Homo sapiens: one gene and its partners. The protein of the gene in region 1 purifies or fractionates together with the protein of each later gene. This does not show direct contact. Each region holds a gene or a part of one and is shown on either strand. Other genes may lie near its edges. The genes, in order: ADCY9, DNAJC18, SMIM20, ALG5, NFXL1, TMEM143 and SMTNL2.

The links.
Region 2: the proteins of ADCY9 (region 1) and DNAJC18 purify together in Homo sapiens (affinity purification with mass spectrometry; one large-scale study listed by BioGRID and IntAct). This does not show direct contact.
Region 3: the proteins of ADCY9 (region 1) and SMIM20 purify together in Homo sapiens (co-immunoprecipitation; one large-scale study listed by IntAct). This does not show direct contact.
Region 4: the proteins of ADCY9 (region 1) and ALG5 purify together in Homo sapiens (co-immunoprecipitation; 2 studies listed by BioGRID and IntAct, with this or other methods). This does not show direct contact.
Region 5: the proteins of ADCY9 (region 1) and NFXL1 purify together in Homo sapiens (co-immunoprecipitation; one large-scale study listed by IntAct). This does not show direct contact.
Region 6: the proteins of ADCY9 (region 1) and TMEM143 purify together in Homo sapiens (affinity purification with mass spectrometry; one large-scale study listed by BioGRID and IntAct). This does not show direct contact.
Region 7: the proteins of ADCY9 (region 1) and SMTNL2 purify together in Homo sapiens (co-immunoprecipitation; one large-scale study listed by IntAct). This does not show direct contact.

Annotation. Positions count from the first base shown.
Region 1 is NC_000016.10:3,987,443-3,990,942, reverse strand, and holds part of ADCY9 (adenylate cyclase type 9), read left to right. Parts: intron 1-1,846; coding exon 1,847-1,949; intron 1,950-3,500. UniProt on the Homo sapiens protein: Adenylyl cyclase that catalyzes the formation of the signaling molecule cAMP in response to activation of G protein-coupled receptors.
Region 2 is NC_000005.10:139,422,526-139,426,025, reverse strand, and holds part of DNAJC18 (dnaJ homolog subfamily C member 18), read left to right. Parts: intron 1-911; coding exon 912-1,021; intron 1,022-3,208; coding exon 3,209-3,318; intron 3,319-3,500.
Region 3 is NC_000004.12:25,924,220-25,927,265, reverse strand, and holds part of SMIM20 (small integral membrane protein 20), read right to left. Parts: intron 1-3,046.
Region 4 is NC_000013.11:36,949,238-36,951,789, forward strand, and holds the end of ALG5 (dolichyl-phosphate beta-glucosyltransferase), read right to left. Parts: intron 821-2,552; coding exon 705-820; 3' UTR 501-704; downstream 1-500. UniProt on the Homo sapiens protein: Dolichyl-phosphate beta-glucosyltransferase that operates in the biosynthetic pathway of dolichol-linked oligosaccharides, the glycan precursors employed in protein asparagine (N)-glycosylation.
Region 5 is NC_000004.12:47,887,084-47,890,583, reverse strand, and holds part of NFXL1 (NF-X1-type zinc finger protein NFXL1), read left to right. Parts: intron 1-3,500.
Region 6 is NC_000019.10:48,336,441-48,339,940, reverse strand, and holds part of TMEM143 (transmembrane protein 143), read left to right. Parts: intron 1-3,500.
Region 7 is NC_000017.11:4,594,529-4,598,028, reverse strand, and holds part of SMTNL2 (smoothelin-like protein 2), read right to left. Parts: intron 2,885-3,500; coding exon 2,702-2,884; intron 1,170-2,701; coding exon 1,052-1,169; intron 858-1,051; coding exon 706-857; intron 1-705.

The DNA of each region.
Region 1 (3,500 bases):
CTGTCATCCCAGCTACTCAGGAGGCTGAGGTAGGAGAATCGCTTGAACCCAGGAGGCAGAGGCTGCAATGAGCTGAGATCGCAGCACTGCAACTCCAGCCTGGGCAACAGAGCGAGTCTCCATCTCAAAAAACAAATAAGAAATAAATGGAGCAGCACAGCTAATAGCAGTGTCGCTTCTGCCACTTGACTGCTAAAATGTGGCCTTGTGCACATCCTCTCTGCAGCTGCGTGGTTGCTCTTCCCTCAGTCCACACTCCCTGAGTCAGGGGAGGAGAGAGGGTCAGTGTCCTGGGACAGAATTATTTCTCTTCTGAGTCTGAGAATGTTGGAAGTTACTGGATACCTGTCACAGAAAGGAGAGTGTCCGCCGTGCTGCAAGGACAGGAAGGAACACACGTGATGAGCCGTACTTTGTGTGGGGGGCACATGAGGCACTTGACATATTTCACCTGATTTACTCTTTTTTTTTTTTTTTGAGACATAGTCTTGCTGTGTCACCCAGGCTGTAATGCAGTGGCGCCATCTTGGCTCATTGCAACCTCCATCTCCCAGGTTCAAGTGATTCTCCTGCCTTAGCCACCCGAGTAGCTGGGATTACAGGCACCTGCCACCAGGCCTGGCTAATTTTTGTATTTTTTGTAGAAACGGGGGTTCACCATGTTGGCCAGGCTGGTCCCGAGCTCCTGACCTCAGGTGATCCGCTTGCCTCGGCCTCCCAAAGGTCTGGGGATTACAAGGATGAGCCACCGCGCCCAGCCTCGTCTAATTTACTTCTGATAGTCACTGTATGAGGGAGAGAGGCTAACACAGCTATATTTGCTTTCTGAAATCATGTTAACGTTCCCTTAGTTTCTAGTAATTTTCTGCAGTATAGAAAGGATATTACTATTTGCTGGCAATTCATAAATGAATGAAAGAGTCATGGAAAGCGGGGTTGATTTCCCTGCTATTAAAATCACTGAGCTTTATCATTCTGCAGGTTTCACATGCAATCTGCATATGTGACAATAGCACCAAAATTACGCTAACTATAAACACAATTTTGTGATAACAACCTGTTAGCTTTTACGGTGGCAATTACTGTCAGTGCTCTGAATGACAGGACCGCCGGTTCTGAATTATGTTTTCGTTTGAAGCCTCCAAATCCATGTAAGTACTCTCAGCACAGTGATCTGCGTGTTCTTCACAAAAGATTGTTTCAAAGAACAGAAAAGCTGCCTTCATCTTCTCCTAATCCTAGACATTAGGAATGTGTTTTCAAAAACAAGCCTCAGCAGCTCACGCTGTCATCCCAGCACTTTGGGAGGCCGAGATGGGTGGATCTCTTGAGCCCAGGAGTTCGAGACCAGCCTGACCAACATGGTGAAACCCCGCGTCTGCTAAAAAATACAAAAATTAGCTGGGTGCGGTGGCAGGCGCCTGTAATCCCAGCTACTCAGGAGGCTGAGGCAGGAGAATTGCTTGAACCTGGGAGGCGGAGATTGCAGTGAGCCAAGATCGCTGCGCCATTGCACTCCAGCCTGGGCGACAGAGTGAGACCTTGCCTCAAAAAAAAAAAACCCCAAAAAACCAAGGTTCTGATGATGTGTGCTATAATCATGGTGGATGGTCATTCTTTAACGAAGGTGAAACACAAAATATGATTATGCTTTGAGGTGCGAAGGACTTTCCACAGATCTGTTTTAACAAGGGGCAGCTGAGTGGCGTCTGTTCCACAGGCGCTTTTAGACGCAGCTGTTGTAATATACCTAATGAGCAGCGTTTTGGTAGCTAATTATGATCTGAAAACATTGGCACAGTTATGGTGCTGGGTATTGATCGACTGCATTTGTTGTGTCTTCTAGCCTGATGAAAGATTACTTTTTTAAGCCGCCCATTAATCAGTTCAGCCTGAACTTCCTGGATCAGGAGCTGGAGCGATCCTACAGGACCAGCTATCAGGAAGAGGTGCGTTCATTTCTCCTTGCGCTTTTACTAAAGAATGTGTTTGTTGTTCTCACATGGTCATTCACTGTTAGTTTTGTGCTTTACCAAGGGATGGGAACACGAAGGCGAACATTGATTTCCCACACTCTGTAAACCCTAAGTGGCAACTGTACATGAAATGTCTCTTTGCAAAGGAGGAAAAAAACCCTTTCTTTAGTCCTTTGTCTTAAAGCGCAGCCTCGCCATTACTAGCCCCTTTCCTCTGCCGTGGCATCTCCAGGCTATCCCCAGCCTTGGAAGGGGCCCCCCCACCACAACCTGTCCTGAAAGGAAACCCCCAACCTGCCCTGGAAGGAAACCCCCCCACCTGCCTTGGAAGGGGCCCCCACACCTGCCCTGGTAAAGGAACCCCCCCCACCTGCCATGGAAGGGGTCCCCCACCTGCCCTGGAAAGGAACCCCTCCCCACCTGCCCTGGAAAGGAACCCCGACACCTGCCCTGGAAGGGAACCCCCCACACCTGCCCTGGAAGGGAATCCCCCACACCTGCCCTGGAAGGGAACCCCCCACCTGCCCTGGAAGGGAACTCCCCACCGACCTGCCCTGGAAGAGCCCCCGTCCCACCTGTCCTGGAGTCTTGGGTGAGACTCTTCTCTGTTGCCCTCCCTGCTTTCTTCCCCTGAGAAGGGCCCAGGAGGCCTTCACCTCTCTCTCTAACTCCGGCTCCATGTTCCCTCTCCCGCCCCCACCGCCTTAACCCCTTGTACTTGACTTCTCAGCCCATCACCCAATCCCACTTCCTCCAAGAAGCTCTCCCCGACTGCAGACTGGATTGTACTTCCCTTCATACACTTCCTTCTCCGTGTGTGCCCCATTTTGGAATCTTTCCGTGTGTGGTTCTGGATTCGTGTTCCTCCCTCCCTAGATGCTCAGCTCTGTGAGGTAGGACCCCCGTCTCTCTCCTCCAGCCCCTCCTTACAGCCTCCAGCACAGTCCCAACACCCATCTCTCTCCTCCAGCCCCTCCTCACAGCCTCCAGCAGAGTCCCAGCGCTCACAAGTGCTCCTTAGGGGGTTGCTGGAAGGAATAATACAAGAACCTAGAGCCTGGTTTGAATCCTGGCGGCTTCCAGACTGCATTCTCTCCTCTGGGCCCAAACCTAACCTCTGAGTGTTCCCAAGTCAAGAGTGGATGCCCTCCCCACCCGGAACAAAAGGGATTTCTCACTCTGATTCCCTTGGTTCCTCCAGCAGGTCTTCATTAAACTCCGTGGTGTCCTGGCTTGGGCTCTAGAGAGACCCTGGTGAGCCCAGTAGAGCCAGTTCATGCCTCGTGGGGTGGGAGGTGCCCCCTTCCGTCAGCCTCCAAGGGACAGTGAATATCCGTTAATGTCCCAGACATGGCTCCCGGAGTGGACTTGCAAGTTGGCAGTTGGCTGGTTGGTGGCCCGTAAGGCAAAATATCGTCTCATTTAATGCTCATAGCAATGCTGTAGGGAAGCTGATGATTATCCTCCTTTTACCAAAGAGCTGACGCTGAGCAAGGCTGAACAGGTGGCTGTGGTCCCATAGCC
Region 2 (3,500 bases), on another chromosome or scaffold:
TCTCCAGCCCCCAGCTGTGCATAATTTTGACCAAATCATTTAGTCTCTCTGACCCTGTTTCCTCTCCTGAAAAATGGGGCTGTTAATAATACCTACTTCACAGGGTCACTGTGAGGATTAGATATTTTTAAGTGCCTTATAAATAAGTAACAAAATGCCTATTATTGTTGTGTAAAATAGCACTTACAAAGATAGAAGATAGGAAAGTACCCCCCAGCAAGTTGGAAGTTGGTATAATTCAATGCCCAGGAAGTAAATTGAATTTTATGAGTTGCTATTAAAAGATACCAGTGACACAATATGGTATTGGGCACGGAAGCAGACGTGAACATGCCAGATAGGATTCACGGCCCTAATGCTCTCTCTCTTCTAGCCTTTCGGGGTTCTCTCTCACTAGTTGCAAAGGACTATTTAAATGAAGTCAGGAGAGCTCAGCACGCTTTAGCTCCAGCTGGTTCACTTGGCTTGCCTATTGTCTTATTTTTCTACTGGGTAAAATAGGCCAATACTCTATCCTTAACAAACCTAGCTGGGAACAAGGACCTTGAAAAAGGCAAGGAAGGGTCAGGCGCGGTAGCTTACGCCTGTAATCCCAACACTTTGGGAGGCCAAGGTAGGTGGATCACTTGAGTTCAAGAGTTCGAGACCAGCCTGGCCAACATGGTGAAACCCCATCTCTACTAAAAATACAAAAGTTAGCCAGGCATGGTGGCGGGTGCCTGTAATCCCAGCTACTGAGGATGCTGAGGCAGGAGAATCGCTTGAACCCAGGAAGCAGAGGTTGCAGTGAGCCGAGATCACCCCATTGCACTCCAGTCTGGGTAACAGAGCAAAACTCCATCTCCAAAAAAAAAAGAAAAAGGCAGGGAAGGAGTGTTTGCCATATCCCATACCATGTATTTCTTTTCCAGGAAATATTCATATGTTTTCAAATGTGACAGATGACACTTACTATTACCGTCGACGGCACCGACATGAGAGGACACAGACTCAGAAGGAGGAGGAAGAAGAGAAACCTCAGGTACCTAGGGAGGGAGGAGCACTGCTGCCCATAAACAGTTGTACTTGGCCAACCTTGATGGTACATGGTCAAGTTTTAGAAGTTGAACCTGAGATATGTTGCTTTAGGAAAGATGTGCTTTAGGAAAGCAAAAGCAATGGTTAGAAGAGCTGGAAAATTGGCCTAAATAGGCAGAATGGTATCCCCTCCCTCTGCCCATTCTTGGGTGGCTCTCCCAGAATCTCAGCAATCTGTGGGGCTGACTTCATCAAGGCTTTTTTTTTTTTTTTTTTTTTTTTTTTTTTTTTGAGAGAGGGTCTCACTGTCACTCAGGCCGGAGTACAATAGTAGAAACACAGCTCACTACAGCCTCAAACTCCAGGGCTCAACCAATCCTCCCACCTCAGCCTCTCATGTAGCTGGGACTATAGGTGCGTGCCACCATGCCCAGCTCATTTTTTGTAGAGATTATTTCTCACCATGTTTCCCAGGCTGGTCACAAACTCCTGGGCTCAAGTGATCCTCCTGCCTTGGCTTCCCAAAGTGCTAGGATTACAGGCATGAGCCACCGCTCCGGCTTCATAATTTTCTTGGCTGCAGAAAATAGGAATCCTCTTCAAAATATTTAGAACTAAAGGGGGTTTAAGGTAAGGGATCAAAAGAGTCTCATGAAGCTCAAGGACAAGAAGCACAGCTGGGCCTCATGACAGACAGGAACAAGGAACTGGGATACTGTCAGGCTCCCAAGCAGCTGTGCTCTGCAGGACTCTTTGGGCCCAGATTGTCTCCAGTTTTCCTGCCACTCTTTGCCTCTGTTTTGTTTTCACCAAGCAGCTTTGCTTGTTCTACTTCCCCTTGCAAATAGCCAGTCTACAGTGCCTGAGAGTGTGTGTTCTTCCTTAAAGTGATGACCCAGAAGTGAAGGGTGATGAGTTTCAACCCCAAATTCCTAGGAGAGAAAACGTGATTACCTCTGCCAGAGTTGGATGTCCCCTGAGTCCAATCAGCTGTGGCCAAGCATGATGCTAACCTGGCTCCTAGAGCCCCACTACTGTAAGAGGCACAGTCTGGGCAGGTTTACCTAGAGATGTTTGCTTCATTGGTCTTATTAATGGGGCTGCAGGGGGATTACTGGGTGTCAATCCAGGTTGTTGTTGGACCTCCTTCAGCCTGCTCAGCAGAGAGAGTAAAGGTTATTTGGTATAGATTGAGTATCCCTTATCTGAAGTAAATTGGACCAGTAGTATTTCAGATTTCAGATTTTTTTTTTTTTTTGGATTTTGGAAATTTGCATTATACCATTATATATTTGACAATTCCTAATCTGAAAATCTGAGGCTGGGTGCTATGGCTCACACCTGTAATCCTAACACTTTGGGGGAACTGAGGCAGGAGAATTGCTTGAGCCTAGGAGTTTGAGATTAGCCTGGGCAACATGGCAAGACCTTGTCTCTACAAAAATTTAAAAATTAGCTGGACACGGTGGTGTGCACCTGTGGTCCCAGCTTCTCAGGAGGCTGAGGCGAGAGAATCATCAGAACCCAGGAGGTCAAGGCTGCAGTGAGCCATGTTTGTGTCACTGTACTCTAGCCTGGGTGACAGAGCAAGACCATGTCTCAGAAAAAAAAAAAAAAAGGAAATCCAAAATGCTCCAATGAGCATTTCCTTTAAGTGTCATCCTGGTACTCAAAAAGTTCTAGATTTTGGAGCATTTGTGATTTTGAATTTTCTGATTAGGACTGCCCAACCTGTACTTCTCAGCTGAAAGTACAGCCTTCCCAGAAAAGCCTGGGGCTTTGTGGATCCTCCTATGCAGTGCATTGATAATTTGTTATTTTCTTTGGAGCAACTATCTTATTTTCAATAAGCTTTATATTGATAAAGAACACTTACAGGCCAGGCGCAGTGGCTCACACCTGTAATCCCAGCACTCTGGGAGGCCGAGGTGGGCAGATCACGAGGTCAGGAGATCGAGACCATCCTGGCTGCGGTGAAACCCTGTCTCTACTAAAAATACAAAAACTAAGCCGGGCGTGGTGGCGGGTGCCTGTAGTCCCAGCTACTCGGGAGGCTGAGGCAGGAGAATGGCGTGAACCCGAGAGGCGGAGCTTGCAGTGAGCCGAGATCGCACCACTGCACTCCAGCCTGGGCGACAGAAAAAAAAAAAAGAACACTTACAGCAAGTTTTTATTTTTTTTTCTTTTTCAGACTACATATTCTGCATTTATTCAGCTACTTCCAGTTCTTGTGATTGTGATTATATCTGTCATTACTCAGCTGCTGGCTACTAATCCCCCATATAGTCTGTTCTATAAATCGTAAGTCTGGTATTTCTAAATCTTTCTCAGTAACAGTCTGGGGGTGAAAGACTTGAAGGTTTTGCTGATACATTACTAACATTTCATTTCACCTTTTGCTGTAGAAAACACCGATTTGATGTTTAAAGGAACAGCTGGGTAGTCATGGTGCTGAGACTCAAAAATACTGAGGCAGTCTCCTG
Region 3 (3,046 bases), on another chromosome or scaffold:
GTGGCAAATAAAACACTGGGCAATGGGGATTATGGGAATCCTGATATCCAAGTCTAAGAGGGATGGAGAGAACACATAGGATACTCAGGCCTATTCCAGGCAACAAGCGGCCTGATGGTTTCACTGCTCCTCTCTGAAAAGTAGCGGATGAATGGCAACCAAGATTCTCTCAAGATATATCAAAAGATTTCTTCCATTTAGAGTGGATATTATGGAGCCTCTAAAGTGTTAGACTTTCTGAAATAACACAAAAGGTGTCCTCATTTCTTAAGACATTAAATCATTGTAGAACTGAGCCCCACCATCCTATAGACATGTAAGTCTCAAAGTATGGATGTCTCGAACATGCTCTTGGAAGATACCAACATGTAAAAGCCCACAGTCATCAGTCTTGGCAGGAACAAAAATAGAATTAATTTTCTGTATCTAACTAAAAGGTCTATTTTCTGATACTATGGAAGAGGGAAGATTTGAGTTTTAAAAAATCACTATCAGAAAGCATTCTAGACTTAGAGATTTCATAAAATCAGACATCCTGGTGTACCAAACACATTGTCCAGAGGCAGGTACTGCAAGGCAAAAGAAGCTGGCAGACTGCCAAGCATCAAAGGAAGCTGACTTTTGGTGGCAAGGACCGAATGCCTAATTGGGTTCTAACCTCTTATGATGCAACGGAGAACCAAATGAAAAGAAAGAAATCCCTGTCTTCACACTTTCTTGCTAATTGCTAATGAGGCTGAAGCAAGGCTGAAGATTTATTTTAAATAGACCATAATCTCTTTATAATCCTTGTCCTAATGCAAACACCTCTGTAGTTTGGCTTGGTCAGGAAATTTAAACCACTTTGCTGAGCCAGTTCCTACCAAATGATAACCAGGTATTAGCATCCTATCTACATCCCCTGGTTCTTTAATCCATTAATGTTTTATAAATACTCTAAGGCCAAAGCAGTCTTATGTAAATTCATGATGTAACACAAAGACACTTTATCTGTGAATGCAGAATACTCTAAAAGGAAAACAGAAACGAGTCCCTCACGATTTAGCAGTGCATCTTGATTGAGGTTGACAGTAAGCTTCTATTTCCCTATCTTTGGAAAAGAGCAAATGTATATAAACCTCAGGAAAAGGGAAATGGCAGAAGTCAGGGGTTTAACTATGTAAACAAATCAGGATAAACTTATTACCAATTTCACTAGTGAGCACATTTCTATCAGGAGTGAAATAATTTAAACCCAAATATGGCACACCGGGTTAAAAAACTCCCCACTCCAGTGTCTCAGCAAGCCCGACTCTGCCCCCTGGTGCTAAGGCAGTGGTGTGATTTGTAGTTTTAATTGAGGACGTTATCTCTGGTCCAGGGGCCAAAGTGTATTATTAAAACTAGTAATACATGCAGACCGGCTGATTTTTTGTACGATAGTAAAAGAATCTACCTAATAATGTTGAAGTCTTTAAAAACAAAAACATATCCTTATATTAAATGTCCACACCGGAAAATACATCGACTGTGTGACTTGTTACTTGAACATTCACAACAATGCAAACACTGCAGGATACTCAAGCCCCAGCTCCCTCAGCAGTCTCAGGATTATTCGTTGAGGGTGCTCTAGTGGAGGACCAGCAGACAGAAACCTAAAATAAAAAAGCAAATGAAAGCTGGTGCAAGGTATGACCTTGGGAACCTACCTCCCTATTTCTTCCTGCCAATAAATACTTAAAAGCAACTCTGCCGGGCGCAGTGGCTCACACCTGTAATCCTAGCACTTTGGGAGGCCGAGGCGGGTGGATCACCTGAGGTCAAGAGTTCAAGACCAGCCTGGCCAACGTGACGAAACCCCATCTCTACTAAAAATACAAAAATTAGCCAGGCATGGTGGCGGGCGCCTATAATCCCAGCTACTTGGGAGGCTAAGGCAGGAGAATTGCTTGAACCTGGGGGTCAGAGGTTGTAGTCAGCCAAGATCATGCCACTGCACTCGAGCCTGGGCGCAAGAGCAAAACTCTGTCTCAAAAAAGAAAAATAAAAAAATAAAATAAAATAAAAGCAACTCACAACTTGAATTGTGACAAATGGCAAAATTTGAACGTGGGCTGTATATTCCATACAAGTTGAATATCCCTTATCTGAAATTGGTTGAGAACAGAATTGGTTTGGATTTAGGATTTTTTTCAGATTTTGGAATATTTACATATATATATAACAAGATATCTTGGGGATGGGATCCAAGTCTAAACATTAAATTCATTTGTTTCACATACATCTTATATACATAGACTGAAGATAATTTTATACAATGTTTTTAATAATTTTGTGCATGAAACTAAATTTATATTAAGTACTTATGTGTGGTATTTTCCACTTGTGTCATTTTGGAACTCAAAAAATTCCAGATTTTGGAGCATTTTCCATTTTCAGATTAGAAATGCTCCAACTGTAATAGCACTGTATCAACGTTAAATTTCTTAGATTGGAAAACCGCATTGTGATTACATAAGAGAATGCCCTTGTTCTTCGGAAATACAGGCTGAAGTGTTTAGGAATGAAAGCTCACAATGTCTTTGACCTACTCTCAAATGGTTCAACAAAATAACAGTAATAATTATAATATATAGTACATATAACTATATCTGTATATATGTATGTATCTGTATGTTATATATAGGGGGAGAAAGCAAATGTGGCAAAATGTTAACAACTGGTAAATCAAGGTGAAGGACAATATAGGAATTTACTGCACTGTTCTTGGATCTTTTGTCAGTTTGAGTTTCTTTTGTTTATTTATTTATTTTTTGAGAAAGAGTCTTGCTCTGTCACCCAGGCTGGAGTACAGTGGCGTGATCTCGGCTCACTGCAACCTCTGCCTCCCAGGTTCAAGTGATTCTGCTGCCTCAGCCTCCCCAAGTTTGAGTTTCTTTTTTCACTAACAAAAACCACATAACTGTACAACATGCATACGAAAAGTCCAACACCATTTTGACTCTTCCATGGTGATTATTTCAAAGAAGCTATCTTTTAAAAAGTAGCAAATATAAAATTTTTTTCA
Region 4 (2,552 bases), on another chromosome or scaffold:
TTTGTAATTGCTATTAGTTCTTGCAGTATCTCAAAGAGGCTTCTGATGTTACTATGTAAATATATTAATATTATAAAATTGATTGACAGGAACTCCCTCCATCATCCATGCTAGAGTGCAGTGGCACGATCATAGCTCACTGTAACCTTGAACTTCTGGGCTCAGGTGATCCTCCCACCTTGGCCTCCAGTGCTAGAGATGAGTAAGACTATAAGGAAATGAACACCTTTGTGACTAAGTCTGTATTCTTGCCTTTAACATATAATTTCCTAAAGTTTCATAGGCTGAAATAGGTTTCTTTGATTTGGATAAATTTATGTACATTTAAACTTATACCCTAGCTTTATTTTTAAATCTCTGAAAACTGTTACATGATTGTAGTTTATAGTTAAGTTCATGAGAGTTATGCAGGCACTTTAGGGTAAGAATAGCTTCTGTCTACAAAAATTATGTTTCTCAGAATTATAATGATAATGAAGCTAAACAAACAAAAGAAAATCTGACTTTTTAAATAAACATCTTTTAAAAATCATTTATATCCAAAGAGATATATAATTTTTTACTTATGGAAAGTTATTTCTTTAAAATTATCAAAAGGCAGACAATGACAAGAAGTTTATTTCAGCTTTACTTAAAATTTTAGTTTCAAATGAAATGAAATGTGACACTGAAGCATAAGAACACAACTGAAGACTGCAAACAACCTAATTCATTTTCCGAGTTTGCTCAAGCCTCCAGGCACCAGTCAAATATCGAAGTCGTATAAAAAGTAGGTCTTTACCCATTTGTAGCCAGCTCCAGAATGGAACTAATTTAGAACCTGTGATTTAAAAATAATTAAAAACAAATTAGCTTAAATAAACTCAGCAGAAAACGTATCAGTTTAAAGTCAGTCTACATGATCGTTGTGAGCCTTTAGCACCTTAATTTTTTAAATCATGGACCAAAAAGTTAAACAATTTCAAAGCTGAAGTGAGTGGAGTGGTTTTCTCTAAAAACAAAAACAGAACATCTTGAAGTGAAATGAAACTTGAGAGGATCTAAATAGTGAAAATTTCATACGGCCCTACTATAGAAAGGAAGGACTACATATGGTGAGGGCTCTAGAAGTCTAATAAAAAAACTACTCACTGAGTGCTCATTACTGAAAATAATTACATATGAAACAACTAAAGATACAGCACAACAGATAAATATGATTATTTCTACATAAATCCAATCTTAATGATAAAAAATAAAGCCTATGATCAGACTTAAGATAATTTTGTCCAGACCTCTTTGTCTCGGGCTACACAAGAACACCAGCCTAATTAAATATCTGATCCACATATCACAGCAGATTCTTTTTTTGTTTTTTTTTTAAACAAGATCTTGCTCTGTCACCCAGGCTGTAGTGCAGTGACACGATTATGGCTCACTGTAACCTTGACCTCCCGGGCTCAAACGATCCAGTCCTCCTACCTCAGCCTCCCCAGTAGCTGGGAGTACAGGAGGCACGCACCACACCTGCCTAATTTTACAATTTTTTTATAGAGATGAGGTCTCACTGTGTTGCCCAGGCTGGTCTCAAACTCCTAGGCTCAAGTGATCCTCCCAACTTAGGCTCCCAAAGTGCTGGGATTACAGGCATGAGTGACTGCACCCAGCCACAGCAGATTCTTATAACCATTACTTATAGTATATACGTGCAGATAAAGTATCAGGAGGAAGGTTTAACATTTCATTATCATTTTAATTATACTTTATATTTAAAGAAGACCTTTTTCACTGCTCTGAATTTATATGACAGCTTTCTTCTGAAAACATTACCACCAAAGCACTGTAGAGACATTATCGTTTATCAGGGCCAAAAATTATCTTCATCCCACAAATGAGGAAGTTGAGGTACCTACAATTCATATTACAAGACAACTATCTCTGTAATGCAAATAAGCAAATGACTAAACATAAAATGGACTTTTACTTTTCCCCACCTCATCTTCCCATAGAGTCTAGGTTGGCCAAAGATCAACACAAATCAACAAAGTTGATCATGATACCCCTGAGTGATCCTTTGACCTGCTTCCCAATCCCCTTTGATTCTAGGCAGCTACTGTGGAGATGAGCTAAGATTTTGTAAACTCAGTTTGATTCAGCAAGATGTAAAGAGGTTTGAATTCATCCTAGACTATACAGTTTGTATAATCTCGAGATTGGTTCTTAACCTTTTTCTGTCCCTAAACATCTGAGGTTACAGAGCAATAATGGTTTACTGCAACAAGGACTCTCACCAGAAGAGCTGGACTTCGAAAAAGTCTCCAGTTGATTATGTTAACTGCTCCCACACTGTGAATTAATTTAGGTTCATTCTAAGGTAAGGAGAAAACTAGAATATGTTTAAAATTCTATACAGCCAGAGCTGTCTAAGCCTTTTAAAATAGGAATTATTAAGATTTATGATAGATTTCAAGTTATTATAGAGTTGGGATCTTTATACTTTTGGATATATGTACAGATATAGTTTTTAAATGGCTCTGGATTGACTGTGGACATTTGGAGTAAAAACACTTTTA
Region 5 (3,500 bases), on another chromosome or scaffold:
GTTTGTAGTGATGTAGTGGTTTTTTTTTTCATTGTCAATATTCAATATAATGTATTGAAATAGCGTTTTATAGTCATTATCTCACTTGACTCTCTTAACCTGGAGAAGAAGGTAAGGCAGTTTGCCAGTGTCTCTATTTTATAGGCAAAGAGGTTGAAGCTTAAGAGGGTTCAGTAACTTACTCAGGGAAATGTCTAGTACATTTGAACCCAGGATTTCTGTATATAAAAGTATTGTCCTTTCTATAACACCATATTGTTTTCCCACTTCCTGACTTTCCCCACATAATTTTTTAATCAATGAAGGTGTTCATAGCATTTTGAACACCTTATTTATTCTGAATTTTATATACTTATTTGTAGTTAAATCTAGTAAAGGATTAGATATGTCCGAAGCTGGTGATTTTTAAACATTTTGATGTCATGACCCCTTTACAATCCTTTGGTCCCCAAAGGGCTTTTGTTAATGTGAGTTTTATTCATTGACATTTATTGTATTTGAAATTAAAATAAAATGTAATAATATTTATTATTTTTTAAAAATAGCAGTAATAAACCCATTATATCTTAATACAAATAATGTTTTATGAAAAATAACTATTTTCTGAAAAAAGTAGAAAATTTTACATTTTTACAAATGTCTTTAATGTCTAGCTTAACAGAAAATAGCCGGATTCACATATATGCTTCTGTATTCAGTCTGCTATGGACATCACTTTTCACTAGCTTCTGGAAAACTATGCATGTGAGACCTTGCAGACCTCCTGAAAGGGTCTCAAGAACCACTAGGGTTCCTGGACTATACTTTGAGAATTATGTTATAAGTTATTACTAGACATTAAAAACTGAGTTAACTTCACTCATTTGGATTATGTTGATATGAAATGGAATCTACTGAGATATGGTATACAGTATTGGAAAGATCGTGGACTTAGAGTAAGAAATCCTGGATTTAAGCCTAGACTCTGCCATTTAGTAGTTTAATACCTAGAACAAACTACTGAACTGTTTCTCAGTTGATCTCCCTATCCTTTCAGAAATCCTGCAGCATATAGGGATATGTGGAACAGGCCGGGAGACTATTGGCCCAAGGTTAATAGAACTAGTCGCAGAGTCAGGATGTGAACCCAGTGTTTATGTTATTTCCATTATACTACATTCCTTCCCCATTAGGAAAAGTGTCAGATTCTATTTACCCTGTAGACATTTCCTGTAGGTGTTCTTTGATTTGTCAGTGAAGTTTAGAAATAGTTTTTCAGGTATGCTCTCACCAACACTAGAAAGATTTTATTTTCTTTTATAGTCATTACATCACTGACCCATTGAGTTTTTGCAGATTTTTGCAAACTACATCTCTGTGATATAACTGGTTTAACAGTAGTAAATCTAATATTATGTAATTTACCACATTAAAAGACCAAAGGAGGAATGAGATCATCTTGATAAATGTCTAACATCTATATAAGATAAAAATTTAATTGGAAATAGACATATCCTTAACCTGATAAAGAGTATCTGCAAAAAGTTTAGAGCAAATATCATACTTACTGGAGAAGTGTTGGAAGCATTTCCCTGTCTCATATTTTTGTGAAGCAAAGCCCATAAATATTTCAGTATTTGTCTCTAAAAGATGGATTCTTAACCTAAATGTAGTTAACATATTTCTTCATATCAGCAAACATCTGGTTTTCAAATTTCTTGTTGTCTCATAAGTAACTTCATTTTTTACATCAGTTTATAGACTCAAAAACCTAATAAAATTGACATGTTGTAATTGGTTTTGTCTCTAAAGTCTTTTAATTTATAATTTCCATCCTCTATCTCCTTTTTTCCCCTTATGACTTATTTGTTGAAGAAACTAGGTTGCTTTATTTAGTTTCTCAGAGTCTGAGTTTTGCAGATTGCATCTCTGTGGTATTATTTAACATGTTCCTCTGTCCTCTATATTTTTGATAACCTGTTAATTGGATCTAGAGGTTTGATCAGATTCAGGTTTTGATATTTTTTGGTAGAGTGGTGTTTTTTTGTTTGTTTTGTTTTTATAGATTTCTATTAATCCTTAGAAAAGCTTATTAGTCACAACAAAATTTTCCTTGATGTAAAGTATGTGGAAGATGCTGTTGTGCAACTGTCAATATTTGTTTCATCTACAGTTATAAAAGAATGTGGAATCATAATTTCATACCATTTTTCCATCATTCTAGAATCCTTCATAATCAGAATTATACAGTAATTTATAGGGGGAATATACTAACTGCATGTTTGTGTTGTGGGTATGTGAAAATTTGATTTATAGTTTTGTTTTGTTCTTTGAGACGGAGTCTCTCTCTGTCACCAGGCTGGAGTGCAGTGGCGCAATCCCGGCTCACTGCAACCTCTGACTCCCCATTTCAGGTGATTCTCCTGCCTCAGCCTCCCGAGCAGCTGGCATCACAGGCATATGCCACCATGTCCAGCTAATTTTTGTATTTTTAGTAGAGCCGGGGTTTCACCATGTTGGCTAGGATGGTCTCGATCTCCTGACCTCGTGATCTGCCTGCTTCGGCCTCCCAAAGTGCTGGGATTACAGGCATGAGCCACAGCGCCCAGCCGATTTATAGTTTTTTTTTTTAAATTCAGGATCATCTGTGTTTATAGTTTTAGAACTACCCGAATCATGCCTATTTTGGCTATTAACTGGTATTGGTCAGTATAGTTATAGTCTCCCTATGCTATTTCTTCATTTTGAAAGTATTATGGAAGCTCTTTTAATTATAATAAATTCTGTTGGTCAGTAGGGAGACTGTTTAGAGAAATTGTCCCTTATTTTCAAGATGTAATTTAAATGTGATACTGTTGTTTAGAATAACAAAAAGGTTACGTTTGATAACAAAAAGGTTCCTCTGCTGAAGATGAATGAAAAATTGTCATTGTTAAGTATAGAAACAGATATAATATGCCGAATGAGAACCGACTTAAATATCACTATCAACTTTAAAAATACAACTTGTAGTCATTCTTTAGGTAAAATAAAAATAAAACTTGATATGTGGGTTAGGATAACTTGACTTGCATTAACATCAAGAATATATGTGTCAAAACACATTTGGTGTTTTGTATAATAAATGTTATGTTTGACCCTACGATGTTTTACCTCTAATCTTCTCTTTTTCTGTGTTCATTATTTGAATTATAATTCTTAATTTGTGTTTGTTTTAGGGAACTATTTTGAACTTCTAGAGGCACTTAAGCCAGGATATTGTCCATCTTTAATCTTTTTTTTATCAGGTTAACTCCCGGTCCATGTTTTGCTTGGTCCTGACACCTAGGCAACAGTCTCTTTAAGATATTCATTTCTTCATTGAAAACTCTTCTTCCTTTATTATTTCATTTCTGATAGAGTTCCTTACTGGGAAAACTAGAGTGGAAGAAAGCCCTTAAGATGATGACAGAACCTCTTGGAGCGAACTTTATAGCCTGCTTTAAAGATTTCTTTGATTTTGTTTTTTTATATTTTTGCCA
Region 6 (3,500 bases), on another chromosome or scaffold:
CCTGGCCAACGTAGTGAAACCCCATCTCTACTAAAAATACAAAAATTAGCCAGGCGTGGTGGCGCATGCCTGAAATCCCAGCTACTTGAGAGGCTGAGGCAGGAGAATCACTTGAACTCGGGAGGTGGAGGTTGCAGTGAGCTGAGATTGCGCCACTGCATTCCAGCCTCGGTGACAGAGCGAGACTCCCATCCCAACACAAACAAACAAACAAAGAAACAAAAAAACAGTTGGCCCTCCCAGACTCCCTCCTGGCTGGTCCCCTCCTGCGCTTCAGTTGCTCCCAGATCTCTGTCTTCATTGCAAGCCCCTCCCCTAGTCCCCTAATCTGGCTTCTCCTGTTCCCTGGACACACCCAAGCCCATGTGCAGCGTGTCCCCATGAGCCCAGAGTCCAGCTGCCTCAACCCTCCTGCTCCTCTCAAGTTCCCCATCTCACCTTGGAACAGGCACTCAGAGCCCCACTGCGGGATAAGGGGTGCGGGGAGCAAGGTGCGGGATGCGGAGTATGGGGCCCTCTTTCTTCCAAGACACAGGGCTGCTCTGCTTCTGTGGTTTCCACAGGAGCTCTCTACTGTCCATGATCAGATCAACCAAGAAGCTCCAGGCTCAGCCTCCCGGCTGGGGCCCTCACTCTCACTGTAGGCCAAGCACAGCGTCTCCCCTGACATCTTCTCTTCTGGGCTCCGCATCTAAGGATGACCTGTCATCCCGCCAGTCACTGGCTAGACCCCCAGCCCACCCTTCCTGTCCCACCTCTGTGCCCCCTGCTCAGGCCCTCTTCCCAGCCTCCAGTTGGTCCCTTCCAGCCCATTCCCCATTCTACCCAGTCCTGCCCTGCCCCTCCTCTGGGCACAGCCTGGCACCAGGGACCCTGCTTCCCAGCCTCACTGGACACAATCCTTCCCCTCGAATCTGCGCCTCAGCTCCTCCTGCATGCTTGCGGCGCCCCCACCCTGCCATCCCTCGTTCTCTGCCTTTGCCTGTGCTGTTCCCTTGGACTGAAATGCCCTTTCCTCTTGTTGGGCTGGCCAACCCCTGCTCACCCCTCACCCTCAGCTCAGAGGCTGCCTGCTCTGGGAAGCCTTCCCGGATGTCCCAGGCTGGGGTGGTGCCCCTGTGGGTTCCTCCATACCCTGGGCTCTACTGTGAAGCCCCTTAGCCCAGCACCAAGCAGGCCCATGGGGCAGCCTGGGGAGGGATGTTGAACTGGTGCCCCTGAGATGCAGCAGCCCGATCCTGCCCTGGAGGGAGAGGTGTGGGGTCCCTGGACACAGGCAGTCGGTCTGTAATGGAGGCGGCAGCTGGCACAGCAGGAGCCCGAGGCTGCATCTGCTCGTCCGCGAGAGGTGATGTCCATCCTGAGCCTTGAGGATGAGGCAGTGAACATTTTCCAAGAACACACCAGGGGTGGTTTGGCTTGTGCCTGGGCCTGGAGGCCTGAGAGAGCAGGACCTGTTCAGGGTAAACCGGCTTTTTCAGCATGCGCTGCATTCACAGGGGAGGAGCAGGAGGTGACAGGGAGGGCCTCGTGTGCCGGGCCACGGAGCTTGGACTCTGAGAGCACTGGGGAGCCATGGGAGGACCATGAGCAGGGGAGGGGCAGGGGCAGCTCTGAACCTATGTGCAGACAAACTGGACGGGGAGACTGAGGCCAGGGAGGAGGCTGGAGTGATGCAGGCGGGGATAAAGTCTGAGCCAAGGATGAGCTGGGGAGCTGCAGAGGAGGAGACGGGCAGAGAGAGTCAGGGGACTGCAGAATGGGGTTGGGACTGACAGGTTGGCGAAGGGGGAGCAAGGATGGTGCCAGGGGCCTGGCCTGTGACTGAGTAGGTGGAGGGGCTGCCCAAGACATAGACCCCAGGGTAGGAGGAGCGAGTGCTGTATTCCTTGTGGGCAGCGGTAGTGCTGAAGGGACCCTCCGGGTGGCAGGGGGACCCCTCTCCAGGGAGACTCTGGCTTCATCTGTGTGCCACAGAGTGACCTGCTCCTTTAACTAGAATTCAGCTCCATCGGCTTGGCAGATACTGACACAAACCCAATGTGTTTTTCATACCACACGGTCCCTAACGCATGCTATTCCTGCATCTTGCCCTCAACCGAAGAAATGGCGATTCGTTCCAATGCAGGCACCTAAACTGACTGTGCTGGCCTGGTGAGAAGAGGGTACAGTCCACATGCAAGCGTGTCATTGGTACCTTGCAGGCCATTTCAGCGATTTTCTGGGGTGCGCTGACTTGAGAGGCATTTCACCTCAGGCCTCGGTGTGAGATGGGAACACCCTATGGGCACCCAGCACAGGGTGTGGGTGACTGTTCCATAGTAGCTGATGTTTGGTAAGTGTTTCTGAGGGGCCAGGCTTTGTCCCAATGTTTTTTTTTTTTCTTCTTTTTTTGAGATGGAGTCTCGCTCTGTCCCCCAGGCTGGAGTGCAGTGGTGCAACCTCAGCTCACTGCAACCTCTGCCTCCTGGGTTCAAGCCATTCTCCTGCCTCAGCCTCCCAAGTGGCTGGGATTACAGGCGCCGCCACCATGCCTGGCTAATTTTTTGTATTTTTAGTAGAGACGGGGTTTCACTATGTTGGCCAGGCTGGTCTTGAACTCCTGACCTCGTGATCCGCCCGCCTCGGCCTCCCAAAGTGCTGGGATTACAGGCGTGAGCCACCGCGCCCGGCTGTCCCAATGTTTTATTAACCGTGTATTGACTTCCTGAACCCTCCCTGGCATTGGCATTGTTGTACAGACAGTGCTGACTGAGGACTTAGGTCTTACCAGGGGCAGCCGGTAAGGGTTTAGTGGGTCAGGCAGCCAGGCCTGCCAGCTACAGGGTCCAGTGGCCCTGAGCTCATTTTGTGGCTGAATGGAGGAATCTGGGTACAGGTACAGGTTTTCTTTTTTTTCTTTTTTCTTTTTTTTTTTTGTGAGACTGAGTCTTGCTCTGTCACCCAGGCTGGAGTGCAGTGGTGCGATCTCAGCTCACTGCAAGCTCCGCCTCCCAGGTTCACGCCATTCTCCTGCCTCAGCCTCCTGAGTAGCTGGGACTACAGGCACCCACCACCACGCCCAGCTAATTTTGTTTTTGTATTTTTAGTAGATACAGGGTTTCACCGTGTTAGCCAGGATGGTCTCGATCTCCTGACCTCGTGGTCTTGATCTTCTGACCTCGTGATCCACCCGCCTCGGCCTCCCAAAGTGCTGGGATTACAGGCGTGAGCTACTGCGCCCGACCGCTTTTTTTTTTGAGACACAGTGTCACTCTGTCGCCCAGGCTAAAGTGCCGTGGCACGATCTCGGCTCACTGCAACTTCTGCCTCCCGGGTTCAAGAGATTCTCTTGCCTCAGCCTCCTGAGTAGCGGGAATTACAGGCACATGACACACACCTGACTAATTTTTGTATTTTTATTTATTTATTTTTTTGAGACAGAGTCCCACTCTGTTGCCCAGGCTGGAGTGCAGTGGCGCAATCCTGGCTCACTGCAACCTCCACTTCCCGGGCTCAAG
Region 7 (3,500 bases), on another chromosome or scaffold:
AAAGGGTCCCTTTATTAAACTCTCCTCGCCCAGTTCTTGACTGTGCCCCCGTCCGCCGCTGGAGCCCTGGCAGACAGACCTGACTTTGCCAACTCTCCTGAGGCCCTCGGCCAAAAACCAAATCCCGAACTGGCTTTCCAGGTGCCTCCTGACCCCAGAGCCACCCCCAAATCTTCACCCTAGAGGTGGGACCTAAGAAGCTAGGCAATTTCACAATAAATGCCAGAACACCATTTCGGGAAGGAAAATCTTATTGGAAGCAAAAATCTCCTTTTAAGTGGCCCAGGTCATATCCAGTTCCTTGCTAACTGGCAGCTGTGGCTCATGCAAGCAACGGCATCTCTCCATCAGTCCAGAGAGGACAGATTCAGAGCTTTGGGGGACCCTGTCCTGCTGCCCTTCATGCCTGGTCTGTGGCTGGTCTCCCAGAGTGCACCTCAGAAGCTGGGCACCTAGCAAAAAGGGCAGGTCCCCAGGAACGGAGTCCCCCTCCACCACTGAGTGCTGTGTGACTCTGGGAAAATCCCTCTCCAGGCCTCAGTCTTCCCATCTGCACAAGAGGTACACAGACCACATGGCCCCAGGGTCCTTCAGCTTTGCAGACAGCGGCCCGACATCCCACTCGCCCCCATGCCCCACCTGGGGAAGAAGTTGGGCTCAGGGACTGGGCTGGGGCTGGTAGCCAGCAGGAGCCACCATACTCACTCGGCCATGGTGAAAGCCAGCTCGAAGTTCTTCTGCCTCTGCGTGGGGCTCAGGGAGTTGTAGTCAAAGGCATCGGGGAAGAAGGAGTGTACCAGGGCGCAGAAGGCCATGCCGTCGCTCCAGCTGGAGGAGAAGTTCTGCAGGTCCACGTGCTGCAACAGGGTGAGTGGGGTCAGTGCGGGAGGGCAGCTGGGCACCCACTCGGAAGGCATAATTACCGTGGTTCCTACCCCTTAACCCCAGCCTCAGCGGGCTCCTGCCCAGGCGGGAGAACAAGGACAGGGGCGACGCTTGGTCAAGCTTTTAGCTGGGGCGTCCCAGCAGCCGGAGGGGAGCCGGGGCTCACCTGGTAGCCCAGCGTCTTGCTGCGGCACCACTCGAGCAGGATCTGCTTGATGCTGCTGGCGCTGGCCACGCCGAAGCTCTGCGACCGCTTCAGCCTGGCCCGGGCCTCGCCTTTCCCCCTGCGGAGAGACGGCAGGCCTGCTGCGGGGGCCCCTCCAGCTGCCATCTCCCAGTGCGGGTCTGGGGCAGGGGAGGCTGTCCTGGCACCACCAAGGAGGGTGCTCCCACCTGCTCTGCTCACCCAGGGGAGATGCTGGTGGCACACGTGGGCTCAGCTGTGCCCACGTCCACGGCACAGCCCATGTACCAGCGACACAGCCTCCTTTGATGGTATGTGGCAGGACCGTCCACACCCCTACAGCCCTCCAGGTCCCCTGTTTATTCCCCATCCAGGAAGCAGGGGTCACCTGGGAATCCTGAGACAGAAGACCTTGGCTCACATGGCCCTGGGCCCCTGCCTTCTGCTTTGGAACACCTTTCCCAGCTCCTTCCTCCCACTCCTCCTTCTGAGCTCCCCTCTTAATGGGGTGCCTCCTTCCCTGATGGCTCTTTCCTAGCCAGGAGGGATGAGTTCCTCTTCTGGGCCCCAAGGACAGTCCCTAATGGCCTAGGCCAGGTTGTTTGGGGCCAGTGGGGAGATGTCCGGGGTCGGTCCCCCTCACTAGAGTCGAGCAGGGACTGGCTGTCGTCTTCATTATCCCACAAGGCCTGGGCCACACCCTGCACACAGCAGGCATCAATACCACGCTTGGGCCACACTCTGCACACAGCAGGCATCAATACCACGCTTGGGCCACACCCTGCACACAGCAGGCATCAATACCACGCTTGGGCCACACCCTGCACACAGCAGACATCAATACCACGCTTGGGCCACACCCTGCACACAGCAGGCATCAATACCACGCGTGGGCCACACCCTGCACACAGCAGACATCAATACCACGCTTGGGCCACACCCTGCACACAGCAGGCATCAATACCACGCGTGGGCCACACCCTGCACACAGCAGACATCAATACCACGCTTGGGCCACACCCTGCACACAGCAGACATCAATACCACGCTTGGGCCACACTCTGCACACAGCAGGCATCAATACCATGCACTGACACGAGGACTGGCTGAATATGCAAAGGTGGGCTGGAGCCTGAGGAGCCGTCGCTCGAGACCTAGTAGCAGGCTGGAGGCCACTCGGCCCCGTGGCATCACCTTCGGTCCTTGGGCAAGACCAACCCCATGCTGGGGCTCCCAGCTCTGGCCAGGAATCCCAGTCCCCATCCAGTCCCCGGTCATGCCCAGAAACCAGAGGAGCCACAACCCCTGGGGAATGTGGGTGTGAGGGCAGCCTGGCGGCACCAGAGACAGGACAGGGGGCCTCGGGAATGGAGGAGGAGAGAGGGGCTCTCACCAAGCCTTCCTGGCTCCCTGCCTCACAGCCATCTCCCCCAACAACTGGGGTCCTCTGTCCCCCCAAGCTGCCCTGTGGCCCAGCCCTAACTTTGTGCCTTGCCCAAGAGATCTTGTCCTGGGCAACAGCGCCCTGGGGAACAGGACAGGGCTGAACCTTGCCCTGCTGCACCCACCCAAGCCCCGTCTGGGTCTGGGCACACCGTGGGGCCGGGCCTGTCTGTGAGTGGGCATCCGTACTTGCCGGCCGCCGTTTCCTGCTCCCACTTCTCAAACAATGCTTTCCGGGCCTGCGCCTCCGAGGTGCGGGGCAGCGTCTGCGACCTCACCAGCTCCCTGCGACGCTCCCCCTGCCGATGGACCTGAGTTATGGCTGGCGGCTGCGGGGACACGGGCGACTGGGGTGGTGTCACCAGCGGTGGGCTGAGGAAAGAATCGCCGAGTTGGGACCTGGGCCCAGCAGCCATCACTAGCTCACCAGGCCCCAAGGTCTCCATTGCACTGAGTGTGGACAAGGCAGCCTGCACCGTGATGGGCGCTCAGAGAAGAGGCCCCCTTGCTCCGGTCCCTAGCTGGTTTGACAGGTTTTCTGAATTGTGCTGGCTGGAGGGACTGGCCAATAGGCTCAACTCAGGAGACGCTGGGCCCGATCTGGACATAACCACCCCTTTGCAGGTGTCAATGCCTGGGGAGGACAGAGGGACCCCCTCCTCAGGCAGGAGGTGTGCTCAGAACCAGCCCCGGAGGGACCAGGCCTCCTGCCTCCACCACCATGCGATAAGACCCCCTTTGTTTTCCCCAGAACGGTTTGCCAGAAAGTCACAATTCTCCTTTTATTATTAAAGAAAAAAAAAAAAGCCAAGCCTGCTACCCTACCCCCATCCCCAATCACAGTCCCGCTGGCTGGCTGGGGGGAGGCCTGTGCCACAGGGAAGGACCTGCTCACCTGCCCCTGCTCGCAGCCCGTGGGCAGGAAGTTCCGGGCTCTGAGGGACCCCAGCTGGCTGGGATGGAAGAAGACAAAGCTCCTGTCCTCTCC